Regions from separate parts of the Homo sapiens genome. Here region 1 is linked to region 2. The links come from fine-mapping of genetic effects on gene expression. A gene starts in region 2. The other region holds a variant in brackets. All regions are shown on one strand. Distances are between the middles of the regions. Region 1 holds the start of DLEU1 (deleted in lymphocytic leukemia 1). Region 2 holds the start of KCNRG (potassium channel regulator).

What was found.
Region 1: its variant is fine-mapped to the expression of KCNRG in whole blood (TOPMed, PIP above 0.99).

The regions. Positions count from the first base shown.
Region 1 is chr13:50,078,777-50,087,357 of GRCh38, reverse strand. All of the region lies in intron 1 of DLEU2 (deleted in lymphocytic leukemia 2), which reads left to right. It overlaps DLEU1 (deleted in lymphocytic leukemia 1), which reads right to left and starts at 5,189. Exons shown (of 7, transcript NR_109974.1): 1 at 4,801-5,189; 2 at 4,164-4,216. RefSeq lists enhancers at 4,265-5,060, 6,678-6,737 and silencers at 5,218-5,267, 5,668-5,887, 5,751-6,045. The variant AT/T (reference allele first, on the strand shown) is at 4,417.
Region 2 is chr13:50,011,623-50,020,203 of GRCh38, reverse strand. KCNRG (potassium channel regulator) reads right to left here and starts at 4,760. Exons shown (of 2, transcript NM_173605.2): 1 at 4,133-4,760. The coding sequence starts at 4,710. TRIM13 (tripartite motif containing 13) reads right to left here. Exons shown (of 2, transcript NM_213590.3): 2 at 1,737-8,269. The coding sequence starts at 8,263. The coding sequence ends at 7,040. All of the region lies in intron 10 of DLEU2 (deleted in lymphocytic leukemia 2), which reads left to right.

The DNA.
Region 1 (8,581 bases), 67 kb before region 2:
AAAAAAGAAAAATACCTAGGTGGTATTAAAAAATGTATACACACACACACACACACACACTTAATTACTACCATAACCACACATCAACACACATACAAAATGACTGTTCACATCCTTTATTAGTTTCCTAATGCCTTAAAATTACCTTAAACAAATTACCATAAACTTAGTGGCTTAAAACAACAGAAATGTATTATCTTACAGTTCTGGAGGTCAGAAATTCAAAATGGGTCTTAGCGGGCTAAAATAGAGATGTCGGCATGGCTGCATTCCTAAAGAGTCTGTTTTCTTGCCTTTTTCAGCTTCTAGAGCTCATGAACTATTCTTTGGCTCATGGCCTCCTTCCACCTTCAGAGTCAGCAATGGCTTTCTCACATCTCATCATTGACACGGATTCTTCTGCTTCCCCTTTACACACTTAAAGGACCATGTAATTAGGCCTCCTCAGGTGATCCAGAATAATCTATTTTCAGATCATCTGAGTAGCAACCCTAATTTTTATCTGCAACTTGAATTATCTCTCACCGTGTAACATAACATATTCACAAATCCCAGAGAGATTAGGACATGTACATCTTTGGACATCTTTGGTAGGCCATTATTCTGCCTACCATATGTATGAATAATTTTTCCTTTACTTTTCTTCAGGAACTCCATGGACCATCATCCACCTCTGAAACTATATGCAAACTATTCACATACATGCATGATTCTAGAGAAAGGGTCTATAACTTTCAACACATTTTCAAAGTTTAAGAATCACTGAGCTGGGTGCAGTGGCACTTGCCTACAGTCCCTGCTACTTGTAAGGCTGAATGGACGATCACTTGAGTCCAGGAGTTTGAAGCCAGCCTGGGCAATATAGAGAGACCCTGTCTCTTAAAAAAACAAAAATCACTGGACTAGCTGATAGAACACCAATGTTCCTTAAAAGAATAGTTTGGCAGTGTCAACACTGCAAAATTTTAGTTTGACTTTTTGATATGTATATTTTTAACTATAATCATAAAACCTTGATATGGGTTGAAAGTTTTTTTCTTGTATTTTTCCTCTGTGTGTTTTTTATAGACTGTGTATATGGAGAGAGAGAGAAAAAGAAAACTCACCCATGTACAAGAGCAAGCAAATGATATAGATGTTCTTTGAACTCTTTTTAATATTGTAACTTTTTGTAAATTTGAAATTATTTCCAAAAAAAGTTGTATTTTTTAAATTAAGTCCCATCTCAGAGAAACAAGACCAACACGAAAATAAAAGGAAGTTGAAAACCCTGCTAAGCAAAGTTTTTAATACATTCAGTAGTATATACTGTTTTCAAGGTACTGTCTGCATTCTTTCTTTCTTTTTTTTTTCTCGAGACAGAGTCTTGCTCAGTGGCCCAGGCTGGAGTGCAGTGGCGCGATCTCGGCTCACTGCAAGCTCCGCCTCCCAGGTTCATGCCATTCTCCTGCCTCAGCCTCCCGAGTAGCTGGGACTACAGGCGCCTGCCACCACGCTCAGCTAATTTTTTTGTATTTTTAGTAGAGACGGGGTTTCACCATGTTAGCCAGGATGGTCTCGATCTCCTGACCTCGTGATCCGCCTGCCTCGGCCTCCCAAAGTGCTGGGATTACAGGCGTGAGCCACCGCGCCCGGCCTGCATTCTTTCTTGAAAGATGAACAGACCTATAGCTTTCACAGTTTTATCTAAATAAGTTAATATGTTGAAGCCAACATTGCATCAGTTGTAGCTTACTCATTATAAACTTCAGCAGGAGGGAAAAAAAGCATAGAAATTACAAGACCTCTGTTCTTCACACTACCCATATTTAGCATCCATTAGCTGGTGATTGCATTTCAGTTTCCAAGAGCAAAACCCCAGATTTTAAATTATGACTTCAGTTCTACTCTTATTGACAAGTAAAGAGGGGTATGCAGAGACACAAACTAACTGTGAGTGGAAAGGGGTGGGGGAGGGATGATTAACTCTTGACTGTATTGAAGAAAGCAAGCTGACACTTCTGCCCTAATTGAGCACCTAAGTAATTGAGTTCTTTCTTCTTATAAAGTACATTACTTTGTAGGGTATTAAAGTTCCAGGCAGGAATTCTTACTAGTTTTAACCCACGAATTTGATGGTCTAAAGTAAAAGCACTTTTCCCGTTTTTCCTTTGAAATTTAACTCAGGAATTTGCACCCCCTTGTGGTCAAATATAAAATTCTTAGTTTTCAAAAGACCGTTTTTTACAATCGGGCTCTCTGTTCAGGCATAGGAACTACTGTATGTTAGTTGATTTTGTTTTCTCCCATTTTAGCAAATCAAGAAGCTTTCATGAAAGATTTTTTCTTAAATAAGACTTTAAACACAATTAGACTTAAATCTTCTAAAAGTGACTTACACATAAACTTTAGTCTCTGCAAAATAGAGATAATTGCACCCACTTAATGAGTTACATGATGATTCGATGGAAAAATGCATGTACATGCTTAGCCCAGTGTCTGACACATATTAGGTCTTCAATAAATGTTATCATTTATCATCATCACTTTAGAATTCTCTTGACATATTATATCTAAAAGGGGACTAAGATAAAAAATTCTACAGTGAGGAAACCAGATTGTGCTACTTACCTATTTGTAAGTTCTAGTACAATTTTACACATGTCTCCCAAATATACCACTTATCCAGACCCCCCCTAGCTGATTGTCCCCACAGGTACATTATATTTTTAAAGTACAAACAATATGTGGTTATCCCTGAATGCTAGAAATTTGGATGATTTTTACTTTATATATATTTTAGATGGGCCTCGGTTTTTTAACCTTAACAATCAGAAAAAGCAATAAATCTATTCCATTTCCAGGTATTATTCTTATGAGATGGTAAAATAAATTAACATCCTTATTTGCCTAACAGGGATCATTATTCATATTTGGGAAAAATCATTTGTCAGTTTGATTTATCATTTTAAGGAGCTCTTGAATAAGAATGCTAACCCCGCCCAGCGCGGTGGCTCACGCCTATAATCCCAGCACTTTGGGAGGCAAAGGCAGACAGATCACGAGGTCAGGAGTTGGAGACCAGCCTGACCAACATGGTGAAACCCCGTCTCTACTAAAAATACAAAAATTAGCCGGGCGTGGTGGCGCGCACCTGTAATCCCAGCTACATGGGAGGCTGAGGCAGGAGAACTGCTTGAACCCGGGAGGCAGAGGTTGCAGTGATCCAACCAGCCTGGGCAACAGAGTGAGGCTCCCTCTCAGAAAAAAAAAGAAAAAAAATGCTGACCCCTAAAGGCACTAACTGTAGTTTGATTTTTGAACAACCATTAAAGAAGCCAGTTTAAAAGATCAATGACTGACTGACAATAACAAACATTTACTAATATGCCAAGCACTGTTGAAATTCCTTTAATATGTTAGCTCATTTACATCCTTACAACAGTCCAATGAGGTATTAATAGTACTTGTTTTACAAAAGGTCCAACAGATAATTTACCCAACAAGGCACAGCTAGTAAGTAGTGGAGCTGGGATTCACCCAGGCAGCTCGGTTCCAGAGTCGACCCACTTAAGTAGTGCAAAAAAGTACCAGAGATTAAGTAGTGTATTTATACTACTCTGCCACGTTACTTCTTGCTGATCTCAAATTGCTAAAATCCATTTCTTTTCCAAGACACTTAAATAATGCAAACCATGCTACCCTTCTCCCACTTCCTTATTAGTACTTCAGGCACTTTCATATCTACTCTCTTATTTAACATTCACAATGAAGGTTTTAAAATATTTACAACTTTATAGGGCTCCACGCGGTGGCTCACGCCTGTAATCCCAACACTTTGGGAGGCCGAGGCGGGCGGATCGCGAGGTCAAGAGATCGAGACCCTTCTGGCCAACATGGTGAAACCCCGTCTCTATTAAAAGTACAAAAATTAGCTGGGCGTGGTGGCACTTGCCTGTAGTCCCAGCTACTCGGGAGGCTGAGGCAGGAGAATTGCTTGAACCCGGGAGGCGGAGGCTGCAGTGAGCCGAGATCGCGCCACTGCACTCCAGCCTGGCGACAGAGCGAGGCTCCGTCTCAAAAAAAAAAAAAAATTACAACTTTATTATCGTTAATTGTCCTATCAGAGTGCCCATTTTTTTTGAAGGTAGACAGGTTTGCCTAGATATGGTGCTTCTACTTACCAGTTCTAAGACTTTGGGGCAGATTTCTTAATCTGAACCTCAGGTGTCCTCATCTGTAAAGTGAAGATAATACCTACTTCATAAGGCTGTTGTGAGCAATAAACACGATTAATTCGTAAATCATTTATTTAGCACAGTGCCCAGCACACAGTACACAGTCAATACGTGGTAGCTGTCAGTATACCAACGTGTTGCACAACAGAAACTCGTCTTTGCTGGATTCAGTTCACTTATCACGCCATTAAAAAAAAAA[AT/T]CATCCTAAGTGACACAGAAAAACTGCCCATTCCTATCTCAAAAAGTTTATGAACAAGTTAAGACGGTAAGAGAAACTGAATTCAATGAAAGCGCCTTCGCAACAGGCAGCTTAGGACCGGGAAGAAGGGCTTCAGCAAACTTAATCATTAACTCTAGGCAGGCGCGCGCGCACACACACACACACCGTTGAAGAAGGAGACCACGCCTCCTGTGTGGGCTCAGGTTGAATCGTACAGCGTGGTAGAGAACTCCAGGGCTGCTGAATCTGACAGATGTGGATTCATCCACTTCTGTGCCACCTGTGCTGTCTTGGGCAAATTACTTAACGTCTCTGAGCCTAGGTTTCCTGGTCTTCAAAACGAGAACAGTAATAGTTCCTACCTGGTAAAGTTGTTCCGAGGCTTAAGTGCGATAACCCCTGTAAAGCGCTGGAGAACGGCAAAAGCTCTACAAGCCGGCAGGGCGGTTTTAAATGCACGTGTATCCATATACAAGGTCTCATTGATACATTCCGTTGTTTGGAGTTTAGACACTGGCTGTAAGACGTTTTTCTTTTCTCCTAAGCAGGACCCGTATTTGTTTACCTCCAACGTAGACTAAATGCCTGTGGGCTGGTAGCTATAAGACGACCCCTCGGCCCCACAACCTCTAAGTTCACTTCACCTCCGCGGCTTTGCAAAAGCGCTACACGCACGCGCAAGAAGCAAGAGGACTGCAACCGAAGAAGCAAAGGGAGAGCCGTGCACCACGATGATTCTGCGCATGTGCCTGGCGGGAGGAGGGGGGAGGGTTGGAGTTTGCGCATGCGTAAAAATGTCGGGAAAGCAAGAGAAGGGGGGTTAAGAGGCGGTATTGACAGCTGTGGAGGCAGCCCGCGTTCCCGGCATTCCCTGGGGCGGCGGGGTTGGCTCTAACGAATTTGAATGAGGAGCCTCAGCGCTTTCGGCGCCATTTTCGAGTGATGCCTGATCTCATCAATCTAGCGGGAGAGACAGGATAACCTGTCCGAGAGTATAGCGCCACTATGACTCCGCCGGAAAAATTACTTTAAAAATCGCCAAAAATTACTTGGAGCAAAGGGCAGTCGGCGGAGCTTCGCCAAGGCTGGCGCAGTCGGTAAGAGCCTGAAGAAGTAGCAGAGCGGGACTCGGGAGGTGGCAGTGGTGGGACCCGCAGGCAGTGGTGGGTGCAGGGAGTGGGCGCGGGGTCTACTCTCACTTAATCGCGAAAAATCCGAGGAAGTAGGGTTAGGGGCAACTTGGGCGTCTGCGAGTGGGCGGCGGCGGGCGGAATGTGGCGGGAGCGCGGAGAGACGGGGCTGTGGGGGGAGGGGAGCTGCAGTTTGAGCGGGACGCGGACCGGCTGCGGCGGAGCAGCCGCCGCCCAGCGGATCTGTCAGCAAGACCCCCCGCCCGGGACCGGAGCCGGGGACGGCGCACTGCGGGGTCTCTGCAGGCGGCCGCTCCTTGACAGGAGGACTGGACGCGCGCCCCTCCCCCATTTCCGAACCGGGCCGCCTTTTCTCGCCGTTTTCTCGACCCGGTGATGGCCGTCATCTCGTGACAAGAAACTTAAGGTCGACAGAAAATTCAGGACCCGGAGTCATGGGTCCCTCCGGTGGGTCGTGGCAACAGTCCCCCCCGCCACCGCCCGGCACCCATCTATCTATATTGTCTTTTGACGCTGAAGCGTGAGGTGCCCCAGGAAAGAGTTTCCCAAGCCCTGGCTGCCCTCCCCCGGCGCGCTGGGTCCCGGTGAGGTCTCTAGGTAGGTAGGACTGGCCGCGGCTCGCGCTTCCAAGATGGGGCAGGGGCAGGCTTTTGAGGTTGTAGCGGGCTCTTAGGAAAGATGCTGGACTTTAGCTTCTTTCTGGGGATTTTTGTCATTTGCTCTCGCAGCGTTGTCCTTTCTCAAAGGGGAGGAGTGTTCACGGGTGAGATGAAAGATGGGGCTTCGAGCTAACGATTTCCTTCTCGTGGCTATTTCCTCCGAGTCGCACTTTCTTAGAAGACTTTTTTCTTCTCCGGTGTTTGAAACATGTCGCAAGGAAAAAAGCAATCTGTGAAACTATTAATGTTTTCCTCCCCCAAAAGTCTTTACCCGGACAACTTAACGGTAATTTTGCGATCCCCACCTTTTCTTGACGCTGAGGAGGAGGGACGAGAGTTGTTATTTGTCTTTCCCTTCGGTGATTTTTTTTTTCCCCCTTAGCTGGTGGTTTCTATCAATTCTTACTCCACAGCTCTTGAGTGATGTGAGCCAGTGACGGCATTAACTTTAGGTAATACTTCTATGGCCTTTGTAAAAATCCCGCGTTAAGGATGTATTAGATCTTGAGTTCTTTTCCGCGCTGGAGGCACCACTAGATTAACCCTTTGCCGGTGTATTGCGTGTGGGGCGCACGGCTCTGGGTTGCAAATATTCCGGAGATGCTTTCTGCAGCAGCTATTCTGTTCAGTTGTTCGCAAAGAGGAATAACGCTTCCTGGGAACCGCGGTGACACGCTTCTTTAGGACTGCCTGCCTACAGAGTTTTTCCCCGTGGAATTGATGTAACGATTGATTTATTTCTTATATTCTATGAAGACTGGGGGACCCGCCCTCGCTTAGAATGTTTCCCGGAGGAGAATAGAAGAGTGCAATGTGATGTTTTTCAAATTGTGTCTAACGGAGCTCCCTAAACTCTGGACTTGTTACCCCCTGATTGGCTGGAAGGAAGCGGGCCTGGGGGGTTTGAATGTTGAACGCTAAACTATAATTCTCGACTTTACGAAAAAATATACTTTTAGCCAGAGAACCACGGAAATAGCTACGAAACGTTAGGACGAGAGTTTAGAAAAAAAGTTGGTTTTTAATAGTTTTTTTTCCTCTCAGAAAGGATTTTCGTGTGGTTCTCAAATGTATATTAAAAGTAAAACTGAAGAGGCTGTTTTCGCAAAATTATGTTTCTGCTGGTTGAAATTAACAAGACTTTTATATATTTGTCACTGTTCTTTATTGGTTAAAAACTGAGTGAAAAATTTAGTTTTTTTCCTTTGATAGGAATTTTTCACCTTAAACTACATATATTTGTTGGATGCAGATTACCGGACAGTTGTTTCTTTTATTTTGATGCAAAGAAACTAATTTTCTTAAGGTTCACGAATGATCTTTTTAACATTTTCCATAAAAATTGAACATCTTATTTAAAAAACTTTTCGCATCTAGTGAAAATATACATTTTGCTAATTCAGTAACTGCAGTGAACTAAAACTTTAATTTACAAAACATTTATGTTTCTTAATTTAGACAACAGGTAAGCACAGGTGCGTATCTATTATTTAGTTCCTTTGATAAATTCATTATGAAGAAATATATTGTATACAACAGTGTGGGTGTGCTGTTTTTTATCTGGTTGATTTTCAGTTGATTTTTGTTCGATGTTGCCTGAGACAGCCTCAGTATATTTCCATTTATTACCGAGCTTGTCATTCCATTTAATTGCATCTTGATAAAAGGCAGGTGTCGTTTTCAAAGAACAGCGGCAAACTAACTGATAAACAGCTGTAGATGCTTTGAGAAACAATTGTTTTAATTTAATAGACGTTTATATTCTTTTATGAATAGTAGTTAAATTTTGAAGCTTATAGTGTGTATGTTCGCATTAAGTCAAATACGCATTGTTAAAAAATATTCAAATAAAAAATCTTATGGCTTTTATAAATCTCTGTAGGGCTGTAAATATAATTTACATTAGTAAGTGGAATAGCTGAGTTTATAATTCATACTATTTTGTACTGCCCTCATAACAAGAATTGTGATAACAGATCCCTTTTCATTACCTTTGTTCAAAGCTATTTATTTTGGGTCATCTTATGAAAATTTCATAGAAGGTGCTAATTATCTTCTCTATAAAATTTGATTTAATGAAATTTTAGGAGATCTCATTTCTATTTTAAACGTAATTATACCTAAAGTACCAGAACTCCTGGGTTTTGCTTTTTACTGATGGTTTTTGTTTTGAGTTTTGTATTCTCATTCAAATTACGTGAGTTTTGGGAAGAGTTGGGGGCAAGCTTTAAATTCCACCAGGCTGGTTAAGTATAACCATACATTTTTAGCACTTTGGTTTATGGGATTTTTTGTTTGTTTAGGGGGTAATGGGTAAAGGATTGTTTGTTTAA
Region 2 (8,581 bases):
CAAAAAGAAGCTTAATTATAAAGCATCCCTTTAATAACTAGCAAAACTATACACATAAATTTGACTTACAACCTCAAAGGCATCATACCTTCTCAAGACAGATTTTTTTTTTGAAATTTCATTTACTTTACAAATCCAAATGAGTGATTTTTTTTTTTTTTCTTTTGAGATGGAGTCTTACTCTGTCACCCAGACTGGTGTGTAGTGGTGTGATCTTGGCTCTCAGCAACCTCTGCCTCCCAGGTTTAGGCTATTCTCTTGCCTCAGCCTCCTAAGCAGGTGGGATTACAGGCGCACACCACCATGCCCGGCTAATTTTTGTATTTTTAGTAAAGATTGAGTTTCACCATGTTGGCCAGGCTGGTCTCAAACTCCTGACCTCAAGTGATCCACCCATCTCGGCCTCCCAAAGTGCTGGGATTACATGCATGAGCCACCGTGCTAGGCTACCAAATCAGTAATCAGGTGCTGAAAATCGAGACCTTGCTGTGATTCTGAAAGTCATTTCAATTCCATATTTAGAAGTAAACCAACACTCATCAATTTTTGAGAGATCACTTTCTAAAGAAAACATTTGATCAAACAAATTGTATTAATTTTTATATAACTATTTCCAATTTTGTTTTGAATTTGCTATTAATTAGTTGATTGAATCAAATATTTTAATGAATGCTGTGCACTTACAATTTCCCCTCCAGATCTAATCTTATCAATTATTAGCACTGACATTATGGATTTTCCTTTGCGACTTACTCCTATGAAATTTACCTTTTTTTAAGTGAAATTTTGCAGATATGAAATGTCAAGATTTTATTGTCACTTTTTACGCAATAACTCTCCATTGTCAAAGAGCACAACTTGGGGTCAAAAGCCTCTGGAGAGTGGAAAGGGCAAAATCTTCTATTCACTGAGGTGCTCCACAGAACAAATGCAGTACACAGAACCAATTCAAGAAAAATGCACATGAGGAGGCGGAGCTTGCAGTGAGCCAAGATGGCGCCATTGCACTCCAGCCTGGGTGACAGAGCGAGACTCCGTCTCAAAAAAAAAAACAAAAGAAAAAAAGAAAAAAATGCACATGAACTTTTCAGATTAGCTATCTGTTGGCTTTAATAATGTCAGCATAGGCTGGGCGTAGTGCCTCATGCCTGTAATCCCAGCATTTTGGGAAGCCGAGGCTGGTGGATCACCTGAGCTCGGGAGTTTGAGACCAGCCTGACCAACATGGTGAAACTCCGTCTCTACTAAAAATACAAAAATTAGCTAGGTGTGGTGGTGCATACCTGTAATCCCAGCTACTCGGGAGGCTGAGGCAGGAGAATCACTTGAACCCCAGAGGCGGAGGTTGTGGTGAGCCGAGATCACGCCATTGCATACCAGCCTGGGCAACAAGAGTGAAACTCCATCTCAATAATAACAATAATGTCAGCATAACACATCTGCATGGATACAGCTTTATGACTCCGTCCTTATCTGCCATCAAAAATGTTTTCATAAAGCTCTTTGTGTCCTCCCACCATTAGTTTATGAGATGTGAAGAAAAAGCTAACTTAGATTAGTTCAGGCAGAAACCTAAACTATCTGTAGTTTTAAGGGATAAAATGATGCTTGGGGACATCCCTAACCTTCTTCTAATGATCATGCTTGAAGTAGAGTGGTTTTTGTAGTTCACATTTAGAAACTCATTCTAAGCAAAGAAACCAATAGTAAAATCTAAGAATTACCAAACTACAAAGCACATCTCAAAAAAAGTTTATTATGTTTGATACAACAGATTCTCAATATTAGCAAATCATTCCACTTACCCCCAAGCGCCAGATCTTGACTGTACAGTCTAAAAACATTTGTCAAAGTGAGAAAAATGTTACAGAACATCTCATAAAAGAATTAAGATACAAATAGTATATACAGATAGTAGATTGTAACAAAGTGGAACGTACTTGCAAGACATCACCTAGCTAAAATACTTGATTCCCTATGAGGACAAACTGAAAAATAAAATATTTCAAGCACACAAAGAAAGGACAAAATAGGGGAAACCAATGGGAAATATAAAGTTTAAACTTATTTTTAACATTTAAAAGCAACTACACTTTTCCATTTGAGCCAGTTCAAAAAGGAGAAGTCAAATAAAGACTTTAGAATCCTGTGACCAACTATAATTTGAGCTTGATAACATGAATGGCATCTGAAAGATGCAAGCCAAGTATTTCTAGTACTGTGACCTTGAGAGATAATAACTGAGCAACCTGCTAGGTTAACCTTGAGGGGTAAATCATATTGATAGAACAAACTGAATAAAGTGAATGATACACCAGACAATTAGGCACCAATTAGGCTCACTTCTCCATTTTCCAAACCTACCAAAAAATATCTGAATAGACAGATAGATTCAGACCAGGGAGTGAGCAAAAAATAAAAATGATTGCTAATTAGGCAATTATATACTAAAAGTGGACCTTTTAAGGCCAGAGTTTTCATCCCAATCACCAGAGATCCCCATAATTTCACCGTATTCAGATTGGCTATCTCTACTTTTAAATTGGCACTGTCTAAAAATTCACAAACATTTATGGAATGGTAAAAATTTTGAGCTTCAAACAATTGAATACCATTTGGTGATGCAAGAAAATGCTAATTTTAAAAATAGCTTCTGATTTTGGAATTATGGAAGTCTAAATATAATGTTTTCTCACTTTAAAATGGAAAAAACTTTCGTGCTGTTTCTAAAACACAACATAAAAAGGGAAAACCATTTGGCACTGTGTACACACAGGAACATCCCAGTTTTAGTTTTTAATCATGTTTTTCAAGGAAACAATTACTTTCTCCAAATGCATGGTTTTTAAAGAGTACTTCGTATTTCCAGGACATCTTCTTTTGACCTAGTGTGTTTCTTCTTAAAAATCAATGACAGTTTTGTCTCTAGGTTTCTGACTTTTTGAAGCATGATCCCCAAAGAGGTCATAATCACTCATATTTTAAAAACCAAAAAAAATTTCATTTTTGTTAAAGTATCCCATCAATGAAAATAAAGTTGTACAGAGGTTTGAGATAAAGATAAGGTATTAGATTTTCTTCACAATCAGCCTACTAGCTTGACTGGCTCTCTTTTCCCAAAATGACATTTCAAACTCTTTTGAAGGACAGGAAGTTATAAAATGTAAACAATTAAGAATTGTCATACTCGGTTATTCTACCTAGTGTCCTCCAGTTGGTAAGCAAGACCAAGGAGTGTGTCGCTAAGAGAGAGAGACACTGGTATCCTTCCTGTTGGCTACTGCTCAAGTTAAGAAAATATCTTAAAATACGCCTACCTTTACCAAAAAAAAAAAAAAAAGTATATTTTAAATGATACCAATAAAGAACACATGCAGGCTTTTCTTTTCCTCCTAAAAATTAAAGCCAGCTTTCACAGTTGGTAAAATAATGGTAGGACAGCATTAAGACATTTTACGGGGGGAAAAATGTTTGTGACAGCAGAGTGGAAATCAGCGTTAGGATCCAGCCAAGAACAACAGAGGGAGTAAGTGAAGAATTGACTCAGGAGCAACTATCCTTAACATACTGACAGCCTATCCCAATATTTTGAGTTGTTTAAGAGCCAAGGCTGTAACAGGATACCAAATTTGCCATGAGATATATCTGTCTTTAAGGGTGTTTAAAAATAAAGTCAGCTGAAGGAAAAACAGTAGTTGAATCATAAAACTGAAAGAACAACTTATATAGTGTGTAAGGAACTCAAGAGAAACCAGTGAGCGAGCCTTTATGTGAACCACTGAAACAATCTCTTAAAAATAAGGCAATTCTTTTCTAAGTCAAATTCATTAGCAATGGAACATAATCTACAAAATTATTTTCTCCCATGATTTGAATGTCCATAGTCTCAGTTTTTTCTGGGCAGTCTTCATTTATTCCTTTTGTCCCACCTAATAATAGCCCCTTTCACTCTAAAAAGTATCCCAGTTTGGAAAATAATTATTTGGTCATTCTACCCAACTCCACTGGTTACCCCAAAACATTATTTTGAATAATCATCTTTTCCAGAAGTTACAGGCCTGAGGAACTTCAAGTTTTTAGAGAAAACATCACAAACTGGTATACAAGAGAAATACTGCAAAGTACAAAATACCTGACTCCAGTTTGGTTATCAGTAGTGCTGTCAGAACCACACTGGAAAACCAGGTCATGGTAAGAAGGTCTTTGTGGAGGCAGTGGAAGTAAGGTCATCTGAGGAGGGAAAAAGTTACCATTCCAGGTCGGCGCTGAAGGTTGTTCTGTAAACACTGTAATCCTCCCTGTTAGCATCTCAATTGTTTTGCTGCAAGAGCCAAACACCCTGAAAAAAGCTTGAGTGTTCCGGCTTAGGAAATGTACCTCCACAAGAGCAGGTCTTGGCTGTAGCAGGTATGGGTTTAAGAGATCAACTAGAGAACGAAGTTCATAGAAAAGAGCCTCTCTCTGAAGCCTAAGATAGTCTGAAAATTCAGTGGGTAATAAAAGCTGGTGAGTTCTCAAAAAATCTAAGATGAAACTAAACAAATCACCATCTCTGTCTACAAAAATCTGGCCACCAACCATCTTGAATTCTTGGTCTCTGCCATCTAACATGCGTGCCAAACGAGAAGCAGGAAACTGCTTTATCGTAGAAAACCTTGTCGTGAATATCTTCCCTCCCACATTCAAAGTGACCAGTTCCTGACTACTCATTCTTCCCTCACTTCAAACTAGAGGCTACCATCAGCCACACTTAGGAAATCAACCTATAACCATAAATGTTGCTAGTTATACATGATTATGCAGTGGAGGGGAGGGAAGAATAACAAAAACCAGACTTAGATTCCCAGGAAACTACTGTAAGGTAAATAGTGTATCCATGGCTGTGTTTGCAAATTCGAGTTGCCTGGGAACTTGCAGTATACAAAATGAAAAAGCAACAGATGAGGAACTAAATAGCTTAAGGAAAACTGCCAATATATCTGAAGATAGACATCAAATAGATCCCTTTCCTGTCTTACATTTAAAAACTTATCCATGAAAACCTAGTAAAACTATATATATATATATATATATATATATATATATATATATATATATATATATATATATTTTTTTTTTTTTTTTTTTTATTACTGGGAGGGGAAAAGCATTCTCCCTCCCCATACCTGTCTACCACGCAGAGGCTAGACTTAAACGTTTTTCTTAATTTCTTATGATCTCCTTAGAAATTTAGTGGCTAAATCATGAATTACATGTTAGGAATGAGACAGCCTGGCAAGCTCAATTTGACTATTCTCATAGCTAGAAGGAAATCATTTCTTCTGTGCTTTAAATTTAGTTGCCACCTTTTATCCTGTCCCCATTTTCATTACCTCCTCTCAACCAAATTAGAGGAGGACTGAGGTAAAGAACTCTTATTTTCAGAAAGTCTATTCCACTTAATGGGCTTTCAAGGAATATCTTACTCTATGACACAAATAAGGCAGACTAGAGAGCAGTTATAAGGTTACTTCTTTGTTATATGAATTCTAAGCAAGGTGTTTATTCCATGAGAGGGTATCTTTATCTCTTGTGAGCAGACAGAACAGCATTAGTGTTCAGCTGATTACTTTGTAATAGCTGACAGACTGTTTTATCTGTTGTCAAATTAGTCTTAACTACACTAAACATTCTTTCTGTAAGCAAGTGGATTGGTTTGGTTGTACACTTGCCATCTTTCGAACAAAACAACACATAGCTGCCAGAAAAAAGGTAGTCTTCCCATTTCCTGCTCTTGCCATGTGTTCTATATATACATATATATGTATATATATGTATGTGTACATATGTGTGTGTGTGTGTGTATATATATATATATATTTTTTTTTTTTTTTTTTTTTTTTTTTTTTTTGGTAGAGACTGGGTCTTGCTATGTTTACGAAGCTGGTTTCGAACTGGAACTCCTAGCCTCAAATAATCCTCCCACATCACTGTCCTAGAATGCTGAGATTATAGACATGAGCCACCCTGCCCAGCCAGCTGATCCTTTTTTTTAACCTATCTATGCTTTTGCTTGCATAGCCACTTAACATTTCTAGTTGATCATCTTTGGTGAAAACTACAAAAACAAAGGAGAAAAGGGCAGATTGAAAGCTCCACTCTCCTAAAAATGTAAACTTATCACAAGAAAATGCCAGGTTTTGTATGTACCATTCACATTTTGGTGATAATTAACTCTCTGTAGAAAATTTTGGAAATCTAATTAATTAGTACCTTCAATACCTTTAGTTGTCTCCCACACACGCGTGTGTGTGTGAAATCTTCTACAATATCTTCCCTTTTTTAGACCATGTTCACTGTCAAAAAGGTGCTTTAAGAGCAGTCTTTGGCTGGGCACGGTGGCTCACACCTGTAATCCCAGCACTTTGGGAGGCCGAGGCAGGCGGATCACGAGGTCAGGAGATCAAGACCATCTTGGCTAACAGGATGGTCTTAAGGGACAGTGAAACCCTGTCTCAACTAAAAATACAAAAAATTAGCTGGGCGTGGTGGCACGCGCCTGTAATCCCAGCTACTCAGGAGGCTAAGGCAGGATAATCACTTGAACCTGGGAGGTAGAGGCTGCAGTGAGCCAAGATTGCATCACTGCACTCCAGCCTGGGCGACAGAGCAAGACTCCATCTCAAAAAAAAAAAAAAAAAAAAAAGTGATCTTTACTGCATGCTTGAAGAACAATCACTACTATACTACCTATACTTCCATCAATACAATATTAGATCATATGATCTCTCACCTATTTTTATCACAGCATAAATACAACCAACATTTGGGGTGGATGCTTATTTCAAAAGCACTCTTTTAAACAAAAAAAGGTTCAGGCCTATACTACTAAATTTCACTTTTATCTTTATGCTACCTAATTTGAACATGTATAGATTATTTTTGGAAGGAATACTTTTGGAGGAAAATATGTGACTAGAATCGTTGACCAAATCTGAATTACCACTCTCTATTCTCTAACAATTTCTAACAAAAGAAAACTGCATACTTGAAACAGATTTTATAATAGTTTATATTTGCACACAAATTCTGCCACATTGTTCAGTACCACCAAAGTAAAATTCTTGAATCTTTCATTGAAAATGAAAAACCCATCTGTCACCTGTTCCCAGTAAAAAACTGATTGTTCTATGAAATCGGCTGTTTTAGTCAGATAGGAACTGAAGTTTGAAAGACAGCCTTTCCAAGTTGCCAGGTCATCAAATAATGACCATTCTAGGAACATGGTAGGACCAAAGACAATGACAAGGCCAAGCAGAAGGATTAGCAAAAATAACTTATAAAAGCTCCAGGGAATCTTGCTAATGAATGTGCCAGTGTCTTGAGGCAAAGAAAGTTTATCCACATCGACTAGTTTTATGTCTTCCCACTGACTGGTATCAAAGTTCTTCATTAAAGGGCTTGCAGGCAAATTAGAGGGAGGTAAAGGAGTTTCCTTGATTACTTTGATTTTCTCTCTAAACTCCTGCATCTGTTGCAGAAATACAATGGGTTCTGACACATCTTTGAAAGCCTCAGCAATGTTAAAGGCCATCCGTTGCTCCTGCAAGATGGTGTTGAGTTTGTTGATCTCTGGGTCATATGCTTGCATAACAGCAAGTTTCATGGTCTCAAAGTCAGACAGAATTTCATTCTTCTTTTGATCCAGTGTGTGTTGTAACTTCTCAAAAAATTCCTTCACTTTATCTGAATCTTTAGTCAGTAACTGTAGGGATTTCCTCTTACTAGTTTCCAAGGTATCCAAGCGAGAAAGAGCATCTCCCCGACGCCAGGTCTCAAAGCTCTGGAAGAGGGACTCAAAGGCATCCCTTTCCTGAGCATAGGCATCTTCAATAGAACAGAAGACATGTTTGGTGTGCTCCCCACGAGTAGCACAGATCCCACAAATCAGCTGCATATCAGTCAGGCAGAAAATGTTGAGAGGCTGCCCCAAGTGTCCTTTGCATACTGGCATTTTGGGAGAGATCTTGATCTTGTTATACTTTTCCACAATACCCTTCAGGGAGTAATTAACCTGCAGGCTATTAATTCCAGTAGCTGAAGTTTCCTTACGGCATGTAGGACACTTGAATGGAGCTGGTCTCCACAAGGAATTCCGCACACTCCCTTCTAAGATACCTTCTAAGCATTTTTTGCAGAAGTTGTGGGAGCAAGGCAAAACCCGTGGATCATCAAACAGACTACAACAAATAGGGCATGTGAGATCTTCTTCAAGCAGCTCCATCACATCCTACCAGAAAAAAAAAAAATTATTTTACTCCAATAACCGTCACCACTAGGACTATGTAATAATTAGAAGAAATCTGCCTTCACGTTAAAATGATTTTTCACTGAAATAACCAGCCAAACAAAGTAGTGAGAAATTTGGTAAGGGAATGCACACCAAAGCAAATTTAATCCACTGAGACTAGAACATGCTCCTTTAATAGTAGGGCATCCTATACACAAGGCCTTTGTGTGGGCTTTCCAACAACAGTCTTTGGCTAAGACAAGACTCAGGACTAGGACAACTGCAAGTTGAGCCAGCAGGACCCAAGCAATT